2 separate regions of the Homo sapiens genome follow, and region 1 is linked to region 2. Evidence: fine-mapped expression QTL. A gene starts in region 2. The other region holds a variant in brackets. All regions are shown on one strand. Distances are from middle to middle.

Region 1 (12,589 bases), 110 kb after region 2:
TGATTATTCTCAAGTTTCTTCGGAAAGGCAATGGAACTAGAATAGCTGAAACAATTTTGAAAAAGAAAACTAAAGTGGGAGGAACCATTTTATCTGATTTTAAGATGAATAAAGCTAGAGTTCTAGAGATAGTGTGGTATTTGTGGAGTAACAGATGCATGAATCAATGGAACAGAATAGAGGACCCAGAAACAGATCCACAAACAAATGGTGCTCTAGCAATTGGACATCCACAGACCAAACAAATAAAATTAACAAATCGACCCCAAAGCCTCAACCTAAACCTCAGACCTGATATGAAAATGAATTCAAAATGGATCGTAGACTTAAATGTAAAATGTGAAGCTATTAAAACTTTTAGAAGAAAACAAGAGAAAATCTTCACCACCAAAAACATAATCTAGAAGATAATATATATAAGTTGAACTTTAAAATTTGCTCTGCAAAAAGTGCTGTTAGAGAATTAAGAAAAAACTACAGCCTGAGAAAAAATATTTGCAAACCGTCTATCCAACATAGGACTCATATCTAGAGAATATAAACAACTCTTAAAGCTTAGCAGCTAAAAAACAGTTTAATTAGAAAATGGTGGCCTGGCATGGTGGCTCACACCTGTAATCCCATCACTTCGGGAGGCTAAGGTGGATGAACCACTTGAGGCCAGGGGTTCAAGACCAGCCTACCCAACATGGTGAAACCCTATCTCTACTAAAAAAAAAAAAAAAAATACAAAAATTAGCCAGGCATGGTGGCACGTGCCTGTAATCCCAGCTACTCAGGAGGCCGCGAGGCAGGAGAATCACTTGAACCCAGGAGGTGGAGGTTGCAGTGAGCCGAGATCGCGCCACTGCACTCCAGCCTGGATGACAGAGCGAGACTCCATCTCAAACAAACAAACAAACAAACAAACAAAAACAAAAAATTAGCCAGGCATGGTGATGTGCACCTGTAATCCCAGCTACTCGGAAGGCTGAGGCAGAAGAATTACTTGAACCCAGGAGGTGGAGGTTGCAGCAAGCGAGATCATCACTCCAGCCTTGGTGATGGAGTGAGACCCTGTCTCAAAAAAAGAAAAAAAAAAAAGAAAAGAAAGAAATTGGCCAAATGCACAAATAGACATTTCACCAATTTCACCAAGGCAGACAAACAGAGGGCAAATATGCACACAAGAAGAGGCTCAGCATCATTAGCCACAGGAAATGCAAAATAAGTCCATGGCAGGATGTCACTACATATCTATTAGGAGAGCTAAAAGAAAAAGTAGTGTCAACACCAAATGATAGTGAGGCTGCCGAGAAACTGGACCTCTCATACATCGCTGGCAAGAATAACATGGTACAGACACACTGGAAAAATACTTTGGAAGTTTCTGAAAAACAACTAAACATACATATACCATATAATCCAGCAGTTGCACTCCTGAGCATTTATTCCAGAGAAATGAAAATTTATGGCCACACACACAAAAAACCTGTACACGAACAAGAAGCAGCTTTATCTGTAATAGCTGAAAGTAGAAAAAAAACCCCAAATGTCCTTCAGTGGATGAAACAAACTGTGGCACAGTAGTACTGCCCTACCCACGGCCAACCATGGTCTGAAAATATTCAATGGAAAATTTCAGAAATAAACAATTTGTAAGTTTTAAGTTGTGAGCCATTCTGAGTAGTGTGATGCAATCTCACACTGTCCTGCTCCCTCCCATCTGGGATGTGAATCATGACTTTGTCCAGCATACCCATGCTGTGTACCCTCCCTGTGACTTGGGGCCAGCTCTGTTATCAAGTGGATAGATTGCAAAATGAAGAAGGATGAATACAGTACAATCAGATATTCTGAGAGATAGACAATATTCATATAACTTTTATAAAAGTACATTGTTATAATTATTCTATTTTATTATTAGTTATTATTGTTCATCTATACCGTGCCTAATTTATAAATAAACCTTTATCATAGGTATGTATGGGGAAAAAACAGGATGTATAGGGTTCGGTTCTATCCGCGGTTGAAGGCATCCACTGGGGGTCTTGGAAGGTATCTGCTGTGAGTAAGGTGGGATCCCCTATCCATCTATACCCTGGAAAAATACTCAGCAATAAAAAGGAATGAATTGTTGATATATGCAACCACAACTTGAGTGGATCTCAAGGGCATTATGCAACATGAAAAGAGCCCATTTCAAAAGGTTGTATATTGCATGATTCCATTTATATAACAGTCTAGAAATGACAGCATTATAGAGATGGAGAACAGATTAGTGGTTGCCAGGTGTGAGGAATGGGGTGGAGGAGGGAAAGTGTGACAGTAAAAGTGGCACAAGGGAGATCTTTGTGCTGATGGAATAGTTCTAGGCTGATGGTGGTGGTGGTTACCTGAGTCTACACGTGGATAAAATTGCAGAGAACGATACACACAAATGAGTGCATTTAAAACTGGTAGAATCTGAATAAGGTCCATGGATTATATGAATATCAGTGTCCCGATTTTGATTTTGTACTAATTATGCCACCCAGATAATTAAAGAGCTTACCCATATCATTATGCTAACTATAAAGCCGTTACCATTGGGGGAAACTGGGTGAGGGGTACACAGGACCTCTCTGTATTATCTTTGCAACTTCCTGTGAATCGATAATCATTTCAAAATAAAAAGTTAAAAAAACATTAGCCGAGTCTTCTGTGTGAACCCAGCCCTGACCAGGCTCCTCTGCTGCCGGTGCTTCCTCTTCCTCTTCTGTCCCCAGTTTGCCTTTTCCCCAGCCTTCTGTTTTTGCTCTTCTTCAGCTCAAGGATGTGAGAACTGCCTGCAAAAAGGCAGCTTTCAGCTTGTTTTCACTTCTTTTGGGAGGGAACATGCAGGTAGGTATACGGAATATAAAACACTGACCTCCTGCTTTGGAAAGAACCTGACATGCCCGACCACTTCTGCTCCTACAGATCAGAATCAGGACAGTTCACCATCCATTTCTGAGCCTCGCTGGTCATGGCGCATGCATCTCAGGAAATGTTGAGGTGGCCTAGCATTCCATCCTCCTCTGGGTCTGATTCAGGGCAGGCTCTTAAGGGACTTTTGCAAACAGACACTGTTGTCTCCTTACGATGCCCAGAATGAGTTGTCTCCACTTCCACATTGAGCCTCAGAATCACATGTGGAGGGGGATGGTGGCTCTGGCATAAATGTGGTCCCTTCAAAGCAAGAACCTTCGAGCACTTCTACCAGGCTGAAGTTTATCTCCATGTCTTTTTCAAAGATGGACAATGGCAGCCTGAAAGAATATGAGGGAGGGTCACCAGTGATGGACATGGTTTGGGGAGAGCCCAAGAATTGAAGGGGACTTGGGATTGTTGACAGACCTTCCACATCTCAGAATGGGGGAAGTGGTTTCTTTTTTCCTCATTCTCCAAGGCTTCTCAGTCTCAGAGACCCCAAGAGATGCCATTAATACAGATTCCTCCTCTGGCTCCTTTGAGACATTTGCTTTTGAAGGACCTGGAAGAGAAAGCTCTTTGTATGTGGCCAGAATAAACTCATTGTACACCCAAACAATTAACTCCTCAATGGACTTGCCAGCCCCTTGAAAGGCCTGGCCCTGCGTCCCTGGACCTCTTGGGCTCTATTCAGTCCCTTAAGCACACCAATGTTTTTGGGTTTTTGTTTTGTTTTGTTTGTTATTCTGAAAAGTCTTTCCCTGAGAATAGTCTGAGCGGATCAACATTGTCCTCAGCCTGGCATTTATCTCTCCTCGCCAGCGAATGTCAATCAGGAATCAAAAAGCCAAACAGAGGAGGCTTTGAACGGTGTCATCGGGGGTCGAAGTGACTTCCAGCTGTCTGTGCGTGGGCCAGGCCTTCTCGCAGGGCAAGGAATTGTGCTGTCACACAAACCCACTGTCTGTATAGGCTCACAGAGCCCATGCGGGGGCTGCAACTTTCTGGGGCTGCACCTGCAAGGACAAGGCGTGACTGGGGGTTGGGGAATCTCCGGAGGCCAAATGCCAGGGCTCTGGGACCAGGCAGTTTCCAAAGCTGCTTGCTGCCTCTGGGACCTTGATCAAATCACTTACTTGCATTGTTATTCAATTCTCTTTTTATCTGCCTGGTTTCTCCCTCCGCCCTGGCTGGTGGTGAGAATAGATGAGGAAAGCTACCTGCCAGGAACTGAGTGTTGCAAAGTGTGGTAATACTATTATTACCGTTGCTCTTGACATCCTCCTTGAGAATTCTTTCAGTTTGCCTTATTTGTTGTTTGTTTTCATGTTTCCAAATTTGCCTTTTTTCTCCCTCCCTGTAAGAAAAAGGATAATCTTTGAATTGGCTTTTTTTTTTTCAGTGTTTATCCTCTTCCTTTTAATATGGAAGATTATTATAGTATTAAAGAGAAATACTCTCTGAGGTCCAAAAGAATCACGAAGAATATACACCAAACATCATCACATGCATATACAGATTCACATACATTTTTCTTTAAAACAGTGGAAGAGTCTTCCCCCAAATTAAGGACCACTCAAATAATCTAGCTGCTGCTGCCTCATGATTTATTTGTGATGACTTGGGCACACCTCCCTTTTTGTTTTAACAGCTTTATTGAAGTATAGTTTACATACCGTAAAATTCACTCATTGTAAATATACAACCCAATGAATTTAATAAATTCATAGTGTTGTACAATTGTCACCAGAGAACATCTCCATCACCCCAAAAAGCAACCTTGAACCCATTCACAGGTATTTTCTACTCCTACCTGTAGCTCTAGGCACCCCCAGATCTGTTTTCTGTGTCTATAGATGTAGCCTTACTAGACATTTCATATAGATGGAATCATACAACATGTGGTATTTACATCTGGATTTTTATACTTAGCATAATGTCTTTGAGATTCTTCATCTACATTGTCACATGTATTAGTAATTCATTCCTTTTAATTGCTGAATAGTATGCTATCATATGGATATATCACAATTTATTCACCAGTGGACAGACATTTGGATTGTTTTCAGTTTGAAGCTTTAATGAATAATGCTGCAGTGAATATTTCTATACATGTCTTTGTGTGGGCATGTTTTTATTCTCCTAGATGGATTCTAGGAGTGGAATTTTGGGGTTAAAAGTTGATGTTTAGCTTTTTAAAGAGACTGTCAAACTCCTTTCCAAAGTGGATGCCCAGTTGTACATTCTCACCAGCAATGAACAAGGGTTCCATTTCCTCCACATCCTTACCAACACTTAATATTGTCTATCTTTTTATTTTAGCCATTCTAGTGGCTGTTTAGAAGTATCTTGTTGTGGTTTTAATTTGTACCTTCCTAATGATTAACAATGTTGGATATCTTTTCATGTATTTATTAGCCATCTGTATCTCTTCTTTGGTGAAATGTCTGTCAAAATATGTTGTCCATATTTAAATAAGGTTGCTTGTTATTGAGTTGTAAGGTTTACCTTATTTTCAATTTAAAAACTTTGATAGGATTTTAATTTTGTAAACCCAATTTTAAAAGTAAGCAGTTGAATAAGATGGTTTGCACTCATGGAATTATAGATGCCCTTTAGTGGGCCTTTAAAGTGTTTTACACCTACACAAAAAAGTGTCCCGAGATTTTGTAGGCAGGTATCCTTCAATTTTAGAAGAGGATATTGCTATCCAGAGAAGTAAAAGGAGGGGCTCAACTTATCCAGAGTAAACTTATTACATGTGAAGGGGGATTTGGAGTGTGACTCCCCTTAAGACTGGGAGGCAGGAGCACATATAGAAACCTTGTTCTCTCCCCAGTGCCCAGTGTGGGGCCTGGTGTTGCTCCAGGGCTTGCCTGGAAGCAGAACTGATGTAGACCTTGGACCTAGGCCTTGGACTTGTGTTTGGTAGAAGAGGTGCTCTTATTTGCTGGGTCAGAAGCCAGGAGCCCAGGTGCCCGGAGATGATGGTTAGAGGGTGCTGTTCGCTTTGGCTTGGCTTCCCAGCCTTTGAGCATGCTGGATGTCACAGGTGATTCCTGGCAGCAGGGCATCTTGTC[T/G]TTTCTCACTTCATAAAGATTTCCATTTAGGACCTCCCCGTGGCAGAGCAGCTGTATCTCTTCACCCTCAGTGACCCTACCCTGCAGGAAGATTCCTTCCCTGCAAGTGGCTTTATGCCTCATGGGCTTCTCTGACTACATCTGGGAAATCTGTGGAGGTCCTTGACCTGCAAAAGGGCAAAGCTTCCCCAAAAAACCTTTTTGCCCTCCTTGAGTGCAGACCTTCTTTGCTGATGGCTGGGCCCGATGGGCAGTCCAAGATTTTCATCTGGATGATGGGAGAAATAAACAGAATGTTTTCAGTTGTCTTGCTCCAGAGAAGAGATACAGTTCTTGTAATATGGGAGGATTTTCATACCTACATTGAATATTAAAATATTACATAAGCCATATGCACTTGAGTTCTCATTATCATCCCTCCTGGAATGTTTGATTTTTCACTTTCCCTTTGTTAGCCTGTAAGACTCCTAAAATGAAGCCACCCTGTGTGGAAGGGCTGAGCACACTGTGCTGGACTATTTAGACTGTGAACTCTGTATCTGGCAGGCACAACCAAATGTGCATTGCAGCTGCCAAAAGACTCAATTCAGTGGCTCATTGAATTCAATGGAAAGAGGTGTTAATAGAGTCAGGGGAAGTGATGCTATTAAAAAAATGACATTGTGTGGCTCTGTTCTGTGTTTATTCTCCCTCAAAGACTTCCAGATCAAACTCACACAGTTTGGCATCAAAAGATGCCTGTTTTGGACTCCAGTTTGAGGCAAATAGTATATCCAGCATAGATACTCTTCTCTTCCTGCTACATCTCATTTCTTGGGATGATTGTCAGATAATTCAGGATCACTTTGGCTTCTGCAAGAGTTGGGTCTTGGTGTCAGTACATGAGAATAATATCAGGGTCAGGTGTCACCCGACTGTCAGCTCAGCTGCTGGCCTCAGCCTCTAACAAGGGTTAGAGTCTCCATAGCTCTTGAATCTTAAGCTCCCAAGGGTGAGATGTTGATGCAAAAAGGAGATCAGGACTCTGTATTCTCTCTCCCTCCCCCAATAAGATGCACGAAAGTCGGCCAAAGGTACTGAGAGCTCCAAATGGTAGAGGGTTGTTATTATTGATGATCTGACTGGCGTCACAGAGACTATCTGAGAACTTGCAATCTGCATAAATAGTTAATGCTCAGAGAATATAGTGTTCCATCCTAAAAGACCTCTAAGGGGTCTTGAGAAGAGAGGGATGGTGTAATCATCAAACCGCCTGAGACAACAGTGCTCTCCTTCCCTCCCCCCGTGGAGAGAAATCTCTTAAACTATATAACCTTAAGAGGGACAAAGATACCCTCTCCAAGCCTTCTCTAAGGGGGTAAAATTATTTCTTAGGGGATGAAAAACACTCATTTTACATATGAAGCACAAATATATATACTGTTTCTTTGCATTATTAAAATTTTATTAGGGAGATGATTAGGAAAAAATTACCTAAAAATGCTCCTTAGATGAGTGATAATGGAAAAAAGGTTGAGAAATACTGCTATAAGCTAAGGTTTTTGGGGCCCTGATGAAAGAACTCAGAGTCCTGGAAGGTAAATAAAGTCTGCACTAACTCCTGACCTGCAGAGGTTCTTGCTGTGCAGAGAGGACTGCCAACACTATTAGAATGATAAGCATTAGGACTTTGTTACTGGGAGCTCCCTGCTCCAATCATCTATGTTAGAAATTTCAAAGCAAGTCTAGGGTGATTTCTGCAAAGTCCCATGTCCTCTCCCATTTTGCTTGCCCTCCCTCTTATTGGGAATTGGGGTGTTTGCTATTTCACAGTTAGAAGCATTCTAATGATTCCTGATTCTCTTCAGTTCCGTGTGCTGGAGAGAGAATGGTTCTTCCTGCCTTCTTATCTGTTTTAGGTGAAAGTGGAGAAACAGTGAGGAGATTGGAAGGGAATGGCACACAGGTCTCTTGTTTTCCTTGAGCTCTTTAATCAGGGCCACTGAGCTGGTAGCTTTAGGGCAGGAAAGGAGCTGGGGACACCATAATTTGATGCCATAAGGATTGCCAACCTTATGCTAACATGCCTGGCCATAACTCAGGGCTGAGGGGGAGATACTGCCTCCCAGTTTTCCTGCGGGAACAAGGGCCAGCAGAGTCATACTGGTATCCTCAGATTTGTGAGAAACGGTCCCCCAAAGCCACGAAGCTTTAACTCCTTTCGTCCATGCCTTGGGATGGTGAACACACACCTGGATTTGTTTTGTTGTTTTGTCTCTCTATGGTTCTCTTTTCCTTCTTGCCCTTTTCTTCTTTTGTTTCTTTTTCTTTGTTCTCTTCACTGGGACTTGGCCGGGCCTTGTACAAACCCCAACCATTCAACAGTGCTGGAGAGTAGATAGTATTTACCTCAATAATGGTAGTCTCCTTTCGATTCTTTTTAACCCTCAATTCAGATGACGGGTCTAAGCCGACACCCACGATGGAGACCCAGCCGGTGTTCGATGGAGATGGTAAGATCTTGCATTACTTCTGATGTTCATTCTCCCACTCATTTTCAGGTTTGGGAAAAGTCTTAACGTTGGATGTTTGTTTAAGTTTTATTATTATTATTTTCTTTTTTAATTTCAATTTTTCCCAGTGTAAGCTGGGTTGTTTTAACCTTTTTAAAAAATGCAGATCCTCCCAGGAATTGGTACACTCTCCACTTCTGGAAGGGCCCTCTGTTCTCTCAGGCTTCCTGCCTGTCTCCTGGTGTCCAACAATAACACAGCCTGGACAGACCCTTGGAGCTGCCAAGACCCAGGAATCACAGCTGAGAAAGATAGTCAGGCCGGCAGTGTCCCTTCAGTAAATTAATTGGCACTTGCAAGTGTCCACTCTGTGCCTGGCACTGTGTGAGCCCCTCTGGGGGATGAAAAGGAGGTTTGGAGATGTAAACCTTTGCTCTCAAGACAGCTGCAACTCTTAGAGTGCTTTAAATTACGGGGTCTCCGTTCTTATTGTCATAGACATTTATGGAAGAAAGAGATCACCATGGTCTGGGAAAAGCTTTTGTGAAGAGCCAGGACTTGAGCTGGATCTTGAAAGTGGTGGGGAGGAGTCTGAGTGTTCCAGGCAGGGTGCTGGCATGGACAAGAGGGGAATGAGGTAGGGATGGGATACAGTGAGGAAAGTTGCAGGAAGGAGATTGGCCAGTGGGACTGGTTTGTGTAGGTTGTAGGGACGTTGAGAGTTGAGGCAGGACATTTTGGAGAGGAGAAATTCTAGGTCAAGAGAAATTGTGGCTGGTGGCAAAAGAGAGGCTGGAAGTCTCTGGAGGCATAGAGAGAGGATAGGAGTGCGGGGTGCAGGAGGTTCAAGTTGGAGGTGCTCAGGGCCTGTACTCTAAAGTTTACTGTACTGAGTACTCCATATTCCCTTGATGAGGAACTGGAAGTTTGGCAGAGTGAAGTCTCTAAAGTATGACAATAAGGTTGGGATTTTAGTGCAATATGTAGCAAACTTTGAGCAGCTCCTAGCTAAGCGTATCCAGCCCTGGATCATGAGACTGGGCAGAGTGACAGAAGAATAAAAAGAAATCATGCCACGGGTTAACACTGTGGCTATGGATGTCCCTAGCACAAGCTTAGCTCTGAGGAGGATTGAAATGTGCAATATCCTTTGCAATCAGCTCACTTATGGGAAGTTTTGTATGTTCATGTCTAAAAGTTTAGATGTAGATGTCTCTGTGATCCACAAAGGTCCTGGATCATTGACAAGTCTGGGACCCTGGGGGGTCAGGTGAGGGATGGAGACTGTCTCATCTTGGGAGACCTCCCCAATACCCTCATTGAAGGTCACTCCACAGTATGCTCAGGTCACTTAGGATTCCCATCTGTCCACTGGGTGACCAAATCCTGGAGAGGCTGGAGGCACCCTGGCACTCTCTTGATGGAGGAATTCAGCCTCTGCGCATGAGAAGCCATTAGAAAGGGGATTGAAGCACACATGAGACGCACTCCTTTCTTTCCCACCTGGAGCAATCTCGGCTCAGCCGTTTCCCCTAGAATGGTCTCTGTGGTTTGTTTGGCGTTCGTTTGTTGATTTATCCCCTTTAAATCTTCTCCCAGGGAAGCAGCTGAGAGGGACTTGGCTTGGCCCATGTTCCTTACCTCCTGGGATAATATTTTTATTCCTGGATGGAGTGCTCAGTGCCTCTGCATTCTGACCACTCTGCTTCCCAGCACAGGATGCCCTGATCGGCTCTTATGAGCTGTTGGGGAGAGAAGCTTCCGTTGTGAGGAAGGGAGGGGAACTGGGAGGAGTGGATGTGGGAGAGAGCTGAAGCCTCAATGCCTCAGACTTTGAAAAATGACTATTAAGAAGTCTGAGGTTACACTTCCACTCACATAGTCTCTTTGCCCAGACTTTTTCTCTCTCCTTTTCCTCACCCCTAGAAATCACAGCCCCAACTCTATGGATTAAACACTTGGTGATCAAGGACTCCAAACTGAACAACACCAACATAAGAAATTCAGGTAAATAACCTTCCTTGGATTATATATGTACCCAGTCCATCCTTCCTTGCCCCGTGGTTCTGTGACTACTTATTGTGTGGGTTTGGAAAAATCATTTAATCTGTCTGGTTGTCAATTTCTATAGCTATAAAATAAAGAGATTGGATAAGTTAATCCCTTCCAACTTTAATTTTCTTCAATTATCATCTCAGAGATCATCTTTCTTAGGTCGTTGATCCTCTTAACAAATTTCTTTGACTGTATATTATAATATTTTGGTTAACTTTCCATATGCCATGCAGAAGAATTTGAAAGAATGACTGGACATAAAGAAGTTGGACTTCAAGCCTGGAGGGAGTCGATTCTGTGTGTTTTGAAGGCTCTAAATAGGTGCTTACAGTCATGTCTTCTCTGGTCTGATCTTTTGGTAGGGGGTCTTGTGAGTGGTCAAGTTTGAGCACTGGCTGAACCCTCTGTAGAAAGTGATAATTTTTGAGGGGTGATCATATTTGTAGGATTTTTTTGTAGACTCTATTTAATAACAATAAAGACCAGAGTCAGTAAAGTCTATTTACTATCAATAAAGACTGAATGTTCATCAACAGGAAAATGTGTTCACAAGCGAAATCTGTATCTCTATCAAGGAGGATCATCTTTTCAACCGAAGACTTCATTATGCGAAATACCACTCTGCATAATTTATGCCTGGTTGTTGAATTTAGCCCTATCTTCTTTTCCTTATAGGTGGCAAGACTATGAACAAAAGATATATGACTTTGAACCAGCAGGCAGAATTTTACATGACAATCAATTAATGAGTGTCCTGTCATTGGTCCCCTTTAAGTTGACCTGTTCACCAGCTCTGTCCTAATGGTGGCGATGTGGCATTAGAATGCAAGGAATTATATAGACCAGGAGGTGAATTCACACGCCATCAGTTGAGTTCCTCTGTGACTTGGGCTGGTCATTGCCTTTTCATGTGTCTGTTCACTGATAAAAGTTGGAGATATGGGATGGTGGAGTGAAAGGAGACTGTGAACCCCCTTGGGTCAGTCTTTGACAGAATAGTGCAGTGGTTAAAGCACAGGCTTTGGAATTAGTGAAACCTGGGTTCACATTGTAGCTCCAACACTTAGTGACCCCAGTCAAGTCACATAATTCCTTTGAGCCTCAATTCTCATTCACAAAATGGGAATCACAATCTCTCCCTCAAAGGACTATGGTTAAAAGTTAACTAAGATAATGTCTATATGGCACTCAACTGATGCCTGGCTAACTGATAAATTGTAAGTACATATATTTATTATTATCATTATTATTGGTATGAATAACGGGAATAGTAATGATGGTGCTTATTTTGAAAATTCTTCAATCAGAAAGAATTTATGATTGTCACCTTAAGCAAAGGCATCTATTAGGCTTCTTCTTAGGACCCCCTCTATTCCCCTTTCCCTGTTAGGCAAATATAAATCAAATAGAAGTGGTTTTGGTGCCTGTAGTACCTGGTGCCGGAAGTAACATTTGCAACTGGTCTCCTAGTCCCTGAGGCCCTGGAAGGTCTGCAAGACCCCCATGAGTTAATTCTCATTCTGTGACCAAGTGGAAGATACGAAGGTGAGCTCTGAATTATAACATACAGCACTTTTTTGGCTGAAACACTCACTTGGCCCTTAACAATTGTTTCCTTGAATTTCTTTTTCACTTACCCATGCATTTGATTGCTTTGGGGAACGATGGAGGAGAAAAGATCATCATCATCATCATCAAAATTAGAATAGCACTGTCATAATAGCTACTTTGTTATCAGGTCCTGTGGAACTTTACATTTGTGTCATCTCACTTGAGCTTCCCCATAACCCTATGAGATAGCTATTGTTCTTGTCTCCATCTTGCAGATGAAGAGTCAGAGGCTGAGACAGAGGAAGTAACTTGTCCTGAGTCATAGCTAGGGAGTGGTTGGGCTGGAGAAAACTAGTTATCCTTGGGAATAGAATGCCTGTCTTCTTGGGCTGTATTCTCTGCATGTAGTAAAGTGGTGAGGTCAAAGTCAGTTGATAATCTTTGCTTCCGCTGAAGTTCTTCTGCTTTCATTCCTACTCT
Region 2 (11,841 bases):
GATCCTCCAGCCCTAGATGACTGTAATCCTGGCTGACAGCTTGAGTGCAACCAGGACTGGCTACATAATTTTAGACTGTGATCCAGTGCAAAATGAAAATGGGGGCTCCTTTTTCAAAAATTACTAAAAAAAATCAAGACAGCAACAGCAGAGTATTAAGCCAAGTATAGGGCCTTTTGTGATTGTACCGTTTGCCTGCCCATGAAGCTGGCCCTGACTGCAATCTCCTGACAGACCCCAAGCCAGAACCACCAAACTAAGCCACTCCAAGATTCCTGCCACAGATACCATGAGATGAGAAATTTTTGCTGTTTTAAGCTGCTAAGTTTTGGGAGTAATCTGTTATATAGTAATAGGTAACTAATATACTATCCCTTTATTACTGCTTCTATAAATTATTTGTAAAAGGATTTTAAAATACCCATATGGTGAGATGAATTTTAAAACTGTTTTCAGTAAGAAACTTTCTACTCACACAGATCACCAGGGGCATATGTGATTTATCTAAAAGAAAAAAAAATGCCAAGAAAGATGGAATTTTACTTCCCATTTTCTCCTGGGTCCTATTTAATAAATGGATTTTCAGCTTGTTCTTGGATATTGTGACTATAGACAGAACCTCCTTTCAAAGTGGTGAATTCAATTTACCTCTTAATCTTTTACAAGGCCCTAATTCTTCTCTTTATATATAGTTTCCTATGAGCAACCATGAAAATGAAAAGAGAACAGCTATATAAAGAAAGTCATTTTGAAGAGAAAGAGACTATGAAACCTCAAAGCACCCTCTCTTTGTATTGTGAAAGTTGTCAAAATCAAAATGGAATCGCTAATATTAAGAAAACCCTGACAAATAGAGCTGAGGAAGGCCATGAGGAGTGGGTTTTTATATTTGTATGTCTGATCATAAAAGCTATAATAAAAGACCATAAAAAGCATGACCTTGTATAAAGGCCATATTTTTGTGAGGACATCTGTCCAGTAACTGTCTGTTTAACCTTGAACTGGTGTTATCTTTGTTACTAATCTTTATAGTCAAAGATAGTTATTTCAGAACAATTATGTAATCAAAATTTAAAAAAAATACTCAGATGGTAAATAGTTATAACTATTTTTCCTGAGCTGCTAAGTGTTAAAGGGATAAGAGTGATTTAGTTAGTCACAAATGTAGTTTCATATTCTCTCCTACCTCAATGCCTTTGCATATGCTGTTTGCTATGCCTAGTATGCCCTTCCCCTCACGCTTTATCCAGCTTAAATCAGACAGCCTTCAGGTCTTGACTTAAACATCACTTTGGCAGGGCACAGTGCTCGTGCCTGTAATCCCAGCACTTTGGGAGGCCGAGGAGGGAGGATTGCTTGAGCCCAGCAGTTCGAGACCAGCCTGGGCAACATAGGGAGATCCTGTCTCTAGAGATTCTGTCTCTACAAAATAAAAAGTTAGCCAAGTGTGGTGGCGTACTCCTGTGGTCCAAACTACTTGGTGGGCTGAGGTGGGAAGATTGCTTGAGCCCAGGAAGTTGAGGCTTCAGTGAGCCGTGATTGTGCTACTGCAGTCCAGCCTGGGCAACAGAGTGAGATCCCTATTTCAAAAAACGCCCCCCAAAACATCACTTCCTGAGGAAAATTATTACTGACTCTCCAGACTGGGTTACATACCTTTTAAAATAAAGTCCCCAAACACCTGTGCCTCCTTGCAGTACCGTGGATACTTGTAATTAGTGAATTAATTGTTGATAATTAGTTGCTTAATATCTGTCTTCCCACTAGACTGTAAGTTCCTTGATGTCATTTGCCTTTTGTCTTTGTTCACACTGCATACCTAGACCCTGGTGCAGTGTTTGGCACTCAGTAGGAATGCAGCAAAATTTGTTTGATTGACTGGTTTGCCTCTATGCCAATGGATTAGGACCACATGATGATGATTTATGATGGAGTATTAAACCACAGGCTGAATGAAGTCGTTGCGGTAATGCTTTCTCTGGAGCATCTAAACATGGTGGTTCTGGTCCTGAATACAAGGGAAATGCCCCTTTTCCAACTGGACTCTTGTATAAACAACACAGACTATTAAAGCAGGTGAATGGGGAAAATTCATACCCATGGATATTGAAGTCAGCCTTCAGCAATGAACAAAATAGCATGCACAAAAACAGTATGTGCTTCTGACTCTTAGGGGGAGAGATTTAACCCATTTATGCTGGAGATTGCAATTTTTTGAACTGCAAAATCAGACCTTGGCGATGACCTTGAGAAGTAGGATATAAATAACCCTCACATGCTCAGCATTCCAACAATGGAACACTAGGCATAAGTGGGTTAAGAGGATGCCAAATTTTTGGATGTGAATGCAAAATTTAAGAACTGCCCTTGGTAAATTTGACCTTTGTTGTTAAGCCTCAGTTCCTCATCTATCCAATGGGACCAATAGTAACAACCTCATAAGTTGGGTCTGAGGATATGAGATAAAGTAGGGAAAGTGCTTAGCAAAAGGTTAGCTTTTAGTACCCTCCACCCTCATAACAAGGTGGATTGGGGTTTGATTCTTATTCTGCTCTTTGTTTCTGGCTATGTGAGTTATTTAACCTCCCATAGTCTCAGTGTCTTCATTAGTGAAATGGAGAAAATAATGCTTCCTACCTTGTAGAGTAAATGCAAGAGTGTATACTAAGGTCTTCATTTTTGGCATTTGCTAAGCCCTCATAGTTGCTACAACTATTATTATTAATTTTGAACTAGGTTACAGAAAAACAACCCGGTGAAGAGAAAGATCCCTTTATAGGTGGAAGAGGGAGGGGAAATAAATAGAAACAGAAGAATATAGACAATTGCCAAAAATATTTTCACAAGATGTGCATTATTCCCAGTGACTATAACTGACCACTGGTCTCTTTAGGGGCTTATTTCTTGCCAGCCTGGCACCACATGGCTTGAGCTTCATTCCAGTATGTTCTCAGTTCCTCCCACTTGAACGTGCCTAAGGGAAATACCAGAAGGAAATTTTTGTGGCCACGAAGAGTCTGGGTGTCTGGCAGTAAGGCCAGTGTCTTAGTCAGCTCAGGCTGCCTTAACATAGACTGGGTGGCTTACAAACAATAGAAATGTATTTATCACAGTTCTGGAGGCTGGAAGTCCAAGATCAGGGTGCTGGCATGGTTGGGTTCTGGTGAGGCCAGATGGCCAACTTCTCTTTGTATCTACACATGGCAGAGAGCAGAGAGGGAAAGCAAACTCTCTTGTGACTCTTATAAGGGCACTAATCTCATTCATGAGGGTTTCACCCTCATGACCTCACCTAATCCTTTTTTTTTTGACTGTATATCATCATCATCTAATCATAATTATCTCCCAAAGGACTCATCTCCCAAGGCCATCACATGGAGCTGGTAGACTTTCAACATATGAATTTCAGGGAGACATATTTAGTCCATAAGAGCCATTAATATTTTCGAGTACCAGGGAGCTGGGTCTGCAGAACTAGAGGTAAACCACAGCTTGAATGCTGTGGCCTCCTTTTGTTTGGCAACTCAAGGACGACTCATGAGGATGGCCTCTACTTCTAATTGTGTCCCAGAATTGTATCCTTTCTTAGTAACATAAACGTTGACTTTTAGCTGTACACATGTGGTCACCTCCAATTAGGATTACATTTTTTAAAGCCCTTTTTTGCTGAATGTGGTCATATGACCAAGTTCTAGCCAATGAGACAAAATGAAACGTGACTTCTGGGAGGTGTCCTTAAAAAGAGGAGCATGCTCTTCTTTCCTCTTTTTCCTTCCTGTTGGCTGGAAAATAGATATGATGGCTGGGGCTTAAGCAATCATCTTGTACCACCAGGTAGAGCTGCTTATTATGACAGAGAAATAATAGAAGGAGCCTGGCTTGGAGGAAGCTGCCCGAAACTTTCAATGGAGTTGTGTACCAAAGAGAGAGCTAAATTTCTAAATTGTTTGTCACTCGAATTATTTTTGTCATGTGTATTTAAAGCTAAAGGAGTGACTTTGGTAAGGTTAAATGTCTGCGGGTAAACTTCATTTGCACACTGGGACTAATAATACTTACCTTAGCCTAATGCTAAGGTTACAGCAAGTTAGTCATAAATCTAAAAGCAGAACCTAGGAATCTTAATGTCTCAAGCTTCTAAGCTCACTAGTGTTTTTGACAAAAGTCTTGGACCTTAGATACAGTGTACCTCTTTCCATTGGTAGCTATTGTAACAAATGAAGCAAATATAAATCAGGATATATTTATGTTATAGAAGCACTCTGCTCCAGAGCCTCATTCAGGATCTACCTCCATCATGAGACCTTCCTGCCCATTAGGCCTACAGTGGGTCATCTCACTCTGAGTTCCTACAACACACTGCAGGCTTTACTCTTTTTTTTTTGAGACGGAGTCTCACTCTGTCGCCCAGGCTGGAGTGCAGTGGCGCAATCTCGGCTCACTGCCAGCTCCGCCTCCCAGGTTCACGCCATTCTCCTGCCTCAGCCTCCCCAGTAGCTGGGACTACAGGCGCCCGCCACCACACCTGGCTAATTTTTTGTATTTTTAGTAGAGATGGGGTTTCACCGTGTTCGCCAGGATGGTCTCCATCTCCTGACCTTGTGATCTGCCCTCCTCGGCCTCCCAAAGTGCTGGGATTACAGGCATGAACCACCGTGCCTGGCCAGCTTTACTCTTAAATGTGGTCCCCAGGTATCTCTCTGGTCTGTGTCTTAAATTAGATGGTAACCTCTCAGAGGGCTGGGTGTGCATCCAAAGATCCATCATAATAATGAACATTGTGCAAGGCGTAGAAGGAGGTGCATCAAAGTGCTTACTAAAAATGGATGAAAAGATTCTATTCTGAAGATGAGATGAGGAAAGAATCCTCTGGATTATATAGAAACACAGATATATATATATATATTTCTTTTTTTCTAGATGGAGTCTCGCTCTGTTGCCCAGGCTGGAGGGCAGTGGTATGATCTTGACTCACTGCAACCTCCATCTCCCAAGCAATTCTCCTGCATCAGCCTCCCGAGTAGCTGGGATTACAGGCATACACCACTGCACCCGGCTAATTTTTCTATTTTTAGTGGAGATGAGGTTTTGCCATGTTGGCCAGTCTGGTCTCAAACTCCTGGCCTCAAGTGATCTGCCCACATCGGACTGTCAAAGTGCTGGGATTACAGGGGTGAGCCACCGCGCCTGGCCAGAAACACAGATATATTTGAAACTGGCATTTCTAGTTAGTACTAAATATTTGAGGCCTTCAGACCTCAATCTGTGATATAAAGTATTAATTTTCATCTACTGAAATATCCCATTGCAAATAGAAGTCCCACAAGACAAGGAGTATGACTGAAACTGGACAAACCAGATGCCAAGATAGTCAGATTATTTTTGGACCATGAGTCTGGCCTCCAGGGAAAGAAGAAACTTGTCAATTTTACTTTTTTTGCTTGGATCAGAAGATTAAGCCTGGCAGAGAGATACTGTTTGGGACTAGTGGTTCTCTGGAATTCCTAACCTTCTCTGGGCTTGGGAGGAGTTGGGAGAAGAAAATGCATCATCTGAATGATGGCCATGGTTACAACAGGCCTCATATGCCAACCAGAGGGAAAGAAAATACTTGCTGAGCAGAGTAACTGGAAAGCAGTTGCTCATAGTTTGAACTAAACTACATGATTGAAATCCAGAATAATGTAGATTTTTGGACCAGTGAACACTTGGAAATAAGCTTTCTGGCTGGAAAGCAGCATTTGATGTTAGGGATGGAAAGGGCTATTGCAATGCTTTTTCCCTGGGCACTTTGTGCTGCCAGATACTCAGGGCCATCTGAAGCATATTTACTTACTCCAGCAGATTTCTCAATAGTTCCAGCAACAGGAAGGAGTTGACCAGCTTGATAGGTGAATGTAGCCAGGTGGTAGAGTCAGGAAAAGCCTGTCACACTGCTGAGCCCGATGGTAACAGTTCCATCCTGTTGAGCCCCTGGAGGGTGAACACTTAGGTGGACACATGGATATTGATGTCAGTGCTGCACAGGGCACGGTACTGGACAAGTGTCACAAGTCCAGCTGGGCAAACTCCAGGATGCCAGGTCACAAGGGCTGTTTCCAGGAAGGGCTGACCCCTGATGTTTACATCCTTTTCCTCTGAAGCTCAGTGGAGCTCACCAGTCTCAGTTCACCTTGTAGGCCACTGAAGAAATTCCCAATTAGCACAGAGGAACGTCCAACCCTATGGGATTTGAGACTGGAGATTGCAGCCATCACATGATGGAAGCAGAATTAGACTCCAAAAACCTTGCCTTGAGTCTCGGCGTCTCGGCTCTGTCATTTGCCAGCCAAATGAGGCCAGGCAAGTCACAATCTCATGGAGTATTCACTTATCTACCTGTAAAGTAGGAATGTCTGACCTATTTCAGAAGATTGTTCTGAGGATAAAATGAGATGAGGCATTTGTCCTGTCCTCTTCAAATGCCATATTGTGATACTTTTCACTTAATTATTTTAAGGGCTTTAAAGACTCCATCTCCTTTACTTTTGACAACATCTCATGGCAGGGGATACTATTTTTATCCCCATTTTACAGAGAGAAAAACGGGACCCTGGATGAGTCAAGTGACTTCTTCAAGCTTATACCACTAGGTGGCAGACTCAGGATTTGAACCCTGCTGTACAGCTCCAGAGTCTGTCTGACCAAAGCACTCATTCCCAGTGGAGGAAAAGATAGACCATTCTTTTAGAAGTGCGCTTCATTTTTGTTTGGAGAACCACAAGTACTTTGTTATTGTTCCAGCATCCAGTCTGAGCTTTCTTGTCAGAGGGCAATGGGGAGAGGGGAAGTCGTTTAAGCAGGGAATGGTGAGTTCCGGTTTGCTGCTTAAAAGGATCACTGGCTTCTAAATAGCGAATAGACACACTGGCTGCCGTGTGGAGGTTGGATGGGGCCAGTGTGGAGAGAGGGCAAAACTGAATTCAGGAGTCAGGTGCGAAGCTGTTTCATGGAATCCAGGAGAGAAGCCCTGAGGGAGCAGAGCTAATCTTAGGACCTCTCAGACCAGATAGGGAGGGGGAGTGTGGCACTGATGCTTACAATCAAATTATAGAAAAGAATCCCTCCCTGCGAAGTAGCCCATACTGATGGAAGTAAGCACTAAAGGTTGTTCTCCACATAAGGAGATCGCTCTGGGTTTCATTTTGCGCCCCCCCGCCCCCTTCCCTGTGATTTCCTGGAGATGTCAGTCTCACTGAAGGCAGCTGAGCACCTTGCTCTGTTGAGGAGCCGGTGTGATGCAGCTGTGACCATTCCCAAGATGGCCTTCCGGGGATGGCCCTGGGCAGAGCCCCCCAACATCTGACTGAAGCTCCGCTGAGCTGTCCTCTCCAAGAGGGTCGGGCACCCGGGAGAGATCTCCTCTCCTTGTTCTACCCCATCTCTGGGATCTCTGCATCCTCAGACTGCCGCCTCCTCATCTATACTTTTCCTCCTTGTCTCCCATCAGGGGACCAGGGCCTCTCTGCCCGCCTCTTCCAGAGCTGCTGGGCTATAGAGAGGCTGCCCCTTGCCCTCCAGTTCAGAGGGGGAAGCTAGGATGCCTGAGTTCCAATCCTGGATCATACGGACCATAGGGCTGGGAGATGTGTGTGTGTGTGTGTGTGTGTGTGTGTGTGTGTGTGTGTGTGTGTGTGTGTGTAGGGGGTTACCGTACCCAAGAGGCCCTCCCCAGCGGCCAATGCCCAGCACACGCTTCACCTTGTCCCTTGCGACTTCTCCCGGGGCAGCCGCTGTGAGACTCAGGATGTCACCTCCCAGGGAGAGTCTTTGAAAGAAGTGGATGCTCCCATTCCCCACTCCAACGCCACAGCCCACCCTGTGCGGGTCATCCAGCGACTTCCCAGTTACTCTTCCCAGATGCAGCAGGGAGGCAGATCTCTCGGCGCCTTCGTGTCACAGCATTCTCATCTGATAAATGGGGCTAGGAGTATTTTCCCTGCCTACTTCACCAGGATGTTGGGACAATCACGAGCTTGAGCTAAGAAATATACATGCTTAAGGCATTATTATTAGCCAGGTGAGCCTTCTGGTGGGTGCCGGCTGCTGGGGCTCTCTCAGGCTTCCTCGGGCAGGAGTGCCGGGAGAAAGTTACTCTTTATCCCACTCTCTCCCGGGGCCTACTCCCGCGGAGCTCCTCGGCGGGGGGTTGACCACGAGTGGCTCCTCTTGCCCCTCTCCCATTGGCTTTCACCTGCCAGAGGGTCGGCTTCAACAGGCCTCTTGGCCCGTCAATCAGGCCCGCCGTGCTCCGCCCCGCCCCTCCCGGGGGTTTATAACGGGAATTCCCATGGCCCGGGCTCAGGCGTCCAACCTGCTGCCGCCTGGGCCCCGCCGAGCGGAGCTAGCGCCGCGCGCAGAGCACACGCTCGCGCTCCAGCTCCCCTCCTGCGCGGTTCATGACTGTGTCCCCTGACCGCAGCCTCTGCGAGCCCCCGCCGCAGGACCACGGCCCGCTCCCCGCCGCCGCGAGGGCCCCGAGCGAAGGAAGGAAGGGAGGCGCGCTGTGCGCCCCGCGGAGCCCGCGAACCCCGCTCGCTGCCGGCTGCCCAGCCTGGCTGGCACCATGCTGCCCGCGCGCTGCGCCCGCCTGCTCACGCCCCACTTGCTGCTGGTGTTGGTGCAGCTGTCCCCTGCTCGCGGCCACCGCACCACAGGCCCCAGGGTAAGTGCGCCCCCAGCTTTGCGCCCACCTGCGGAGGGAGGGGAGGTTGCTTCCCCCCTCATCCCTGAGGGAAGGAGGAGGGGGAAGAGAGATGTCAGAGACCTGTTGTCCTCTGTCTACTACCAGGTCCCCTGCGGGCTTGGTGAAGTTGCTGAAATATTTTTTTTCTCCCATTGGAGCCACCACCACTCTCCCTTTCTTGACCCACCATCCCTCCCCTGTCCCCGAACTGTCACTGGTGGGTTTTCTTTCCCAATCTCTTCTCTCCTGCATTTTGCTCAAGACCCTCAGAGGTGCCTCCTGCGTCGGAGAGAAGCTCGCTCTCCGCTCATGCAGGGCTTCCCTGTGGTCTCACGCTGGCGCCCGGTCCAGCGCGCTGGAGTTGTTGGCAGGCGGCGGGGGTTGGGACGGGGGCGGGTGCAGCTCTGCCTGGAGAGTTTTAGGTTACCCGCGAGCCACACAAGGACCTTGTGTTGTTGTTTTAAAAAGCGATCACTGCTCGTAAAACCCACAGCAGATAATTTTAATGTCACCTCCTGCCGGGCAGGCACTGGAAGAGGGTCAGAGGTGGGGTACTGTAAAGAGGTGGGAGGGGAGAGTTGCGCAATGTTCAGGGGTCTCTCCCCCTGGGTTCAGTGCTGGGAGGTTGAATTACTCGTTGAACCTTGGTCTGATTGGAGTTTCTGAACGACATGAAACCTGCCAATTCTGTGCACAGGACAGATTGTCCAGGGCATTGTAAAATCTCCTGGAACCGACAGTATTGTGTTCATTTCTGGTCTAGATTATCCCCGCAACACCCCCCACCAATTGGTCTAATAAAGAATTTCACTGCCTTGAAACATGTACTATTAAACGACCTAGTGGTTCTTTTGACCAAACTTAATCCAGGCAATCTCTGGCCAAGCATCAGTTTATGTCAGGGCAATTGACTCTTAACTGGCAGCCTGAGAGTCCATGTGAAAGTAGCTAGGATCTTTGTGAAAACAAGGTTGGCTCAACCAACTCGTGCTTTCTTTCTTGAACATCCTTGGGCCTGGCCCTTTACCACCTGTTCAGATTGCAGGTTGTTTATTCATAGCTTTTACTATATGAGAATCATCTTTATAGCTGTCGTGTGGAGAAAAAGTCTTGCAATGCTTGACAAGTCTTAATGACTGCCCAGATGCTGGGTTGATTACATCCAAGCCCAGGTATCACTGTGAGATCAGATTTGCAGCCATTTAGGAAAGAAAAGTGTTTGTCCCCGTGTTGGGCCAGCCCTTGCTTTTATGACCAGATGTGCAACAGCAGCAGTTAAAGTGTGGCAGATTAGATCCAGGGCGTGTCATAAATCCTCGACAGCAGGCATTCCCAAAGCTGGGGCAAGTAAGGGCTCCAGGAGTGACTTTTATGGATGCAGATGAGGATGCCTTTTAAATGAAGCTGCTTGGTTTGATATTAGGACTCAGAGCTCTTAAACTCTGAGGTCAGGCGAGCCATGCGTTCCCTCCAATAATTAGGAACAGTCAAGACAGAGATGCAGACCAGAGCACCCCGACTGAAATCTGGATGGCCGCCCACAGGAGGGTCGAAAGGAGAGAGGCCCTGAGACAAATGGTGGGGGGCTCGTTTGTTTGCTGCTGGGCTTGTCTAGAGTCTCAAGCCATATGGCTCTCCTTCCTGGCCTCCTGGAATCAGAGGAAGCAACCTTTAGGGGAAAGCTAGGGACTTGAGGGGAAATCAGGCACCGTGGTTAGGTTCCTTCCAGCTCCTCTAGTTTATTAATTTGATAGAAGTGATGGAACGTAAGCAGGAATTGTAAATAGGCTGGTGTATGTCCAAGCTGCTTCACACTCTCTCTCTCCTTCTTTCTTTTTTTCCCTCTTTCTCTCTCTCACTCAAATACATACATGCACAAACACACACACACATGTGCACACACATCTTGGTGTGTTTAGAAAGTACCAAGGAGAAGGTGCTGTCTCGAGCATGTGGTTACCTGGTTGTGTTTATAGATAACAATAAGAGCTACCACTTATGAACATCTGGGCTGGGCACTTTACATGATCTCTTACTCGAACGAGAACAAGAAGTTGGGTCTTTTAAAAGCCATTTTACAGATGACAAAGTGAGACTCAGGGTGGCCAATCGACTTGCCTGAGCTTCCAGTTTATATGGATTGAAAAGTTGTGTGCTCTCCCCACCACCAGGCAGCTATAGTGAGTGTTCATCCGAGTGATGCTGTTTCTGTTAAAGAAAGAGATGGCTCGATGAGAAATACAGAACCCGGATACATCAGGGGAGTCTGCAGAGAAATTGTTAATATTTTTTTGGTGTCTGTATCACTTAAGGCAAATGACTGAATTTCAACCTATCCCCAAAGACTCCAGTTCTTTTCTATGGCTTATTGGGGGCCTCAAAAGTGTAGCTCTGGTTGTTGAGAGCGGCGTCATCCGAGGAGCAGAAACATCTGGCTTGTTGCATTATTCCCTGTGGGCGCTCCTAAGTCTCTTCTGTTAATCTTTTGAGTGACAGAGGCTTAAGGATTGGCATCTTTTCCAGCTGGCTTTCTAGGAAACCAAGAGCATGCCCTTTCAGTTTAACTTTATCTGGCTCACTAATTGAGCTCCCCCGAGGCCTAGACCCCAGTCCTCGCCCCCTTATTTGCTTCCTGCCTTCCTTCATAAAATTCTTGACATTTGTTTGACTCTGGAAACCAGCGGCTATCGAGTATCAGATTGGAGGCTATTATGTAGGAAGCACCTGATTTTGGGGTCTCTCAACTGTGAGTGGTTGCTTGGCTAGCTGGGACGTTGGTCAGGATTCTTTTAATCACTGAGGAGGCAGCCGTTTCTTTAATCCTGCACAATTTACTGAAAATGTTTCAGGGGAGGATGGGATGGGGGAGGGGCTCTCCCTGGCTGATGGTGTCTGGCCGATGGTCAAGCCAACTGCCTGTCTTTGTTAAATTCTGTGTCTCCCTTGAAGATGGAAAGCTGGGTGAAGGCAGGAACTGTTTCTGTCTTGTCCAGGGATTTATCTCCAGAGCTCAGCAAGGGGCCAGACACCTGTCAAGATTTACTTTGTTGGTACTGATGGAATGAACAAATAAATGCAGATAATGTGTGTTTGAGAGTGATTACAGGTTCCACTTT

Direction of the effects. Positions count from the first base shown, and alleles are read on the strand shown. Sizes are in standard deviations (SD) of each study's normalised expression.
In carriers of allele T in region 1, the expression in aorta of the gene that starts at base 8,343 in region 2 tends to be higher than with G alone (moderate effect, 0.47 SD a copy in GTEx).

The links.
Region 1: its variant is fine-mapped to the expression of SMOC1 in aorta (GTEx, PIP above 0.99).

What each region holds. Positions count from the first base shown.
Region 1 is chr14:69,983,971-69,996,559 of GRCh38, forward strand. SMOC1 (SPARC related modular calcium binding 1) reads left to right here. Exons shown (of 12, transcript NM_001034852.3): 6 at 8,447-8,503; 7 at 10,430-10,510. Among named protein-coding and RNA genes, the nearest start is that of SNORD169, 12 kb to the left of the region's middle. RefSeq lists an enhancer at 3,390-3,891. The variant T/G (reference allele first, on the strand shown) is at 6,012.
Region 2 is chr14:69,871,074-69,882,914 of GRCh38, forward strand. SMOC1 (SPARC related modular calcium binding 1) reads left to right here and starts at 8,343. Exons shown (of 12, transcript NM_001034852.3): 1 at 8,343-8,704. The coding sequence starts at 8,606. RefSeq lists a silencer at 8,441-8,530.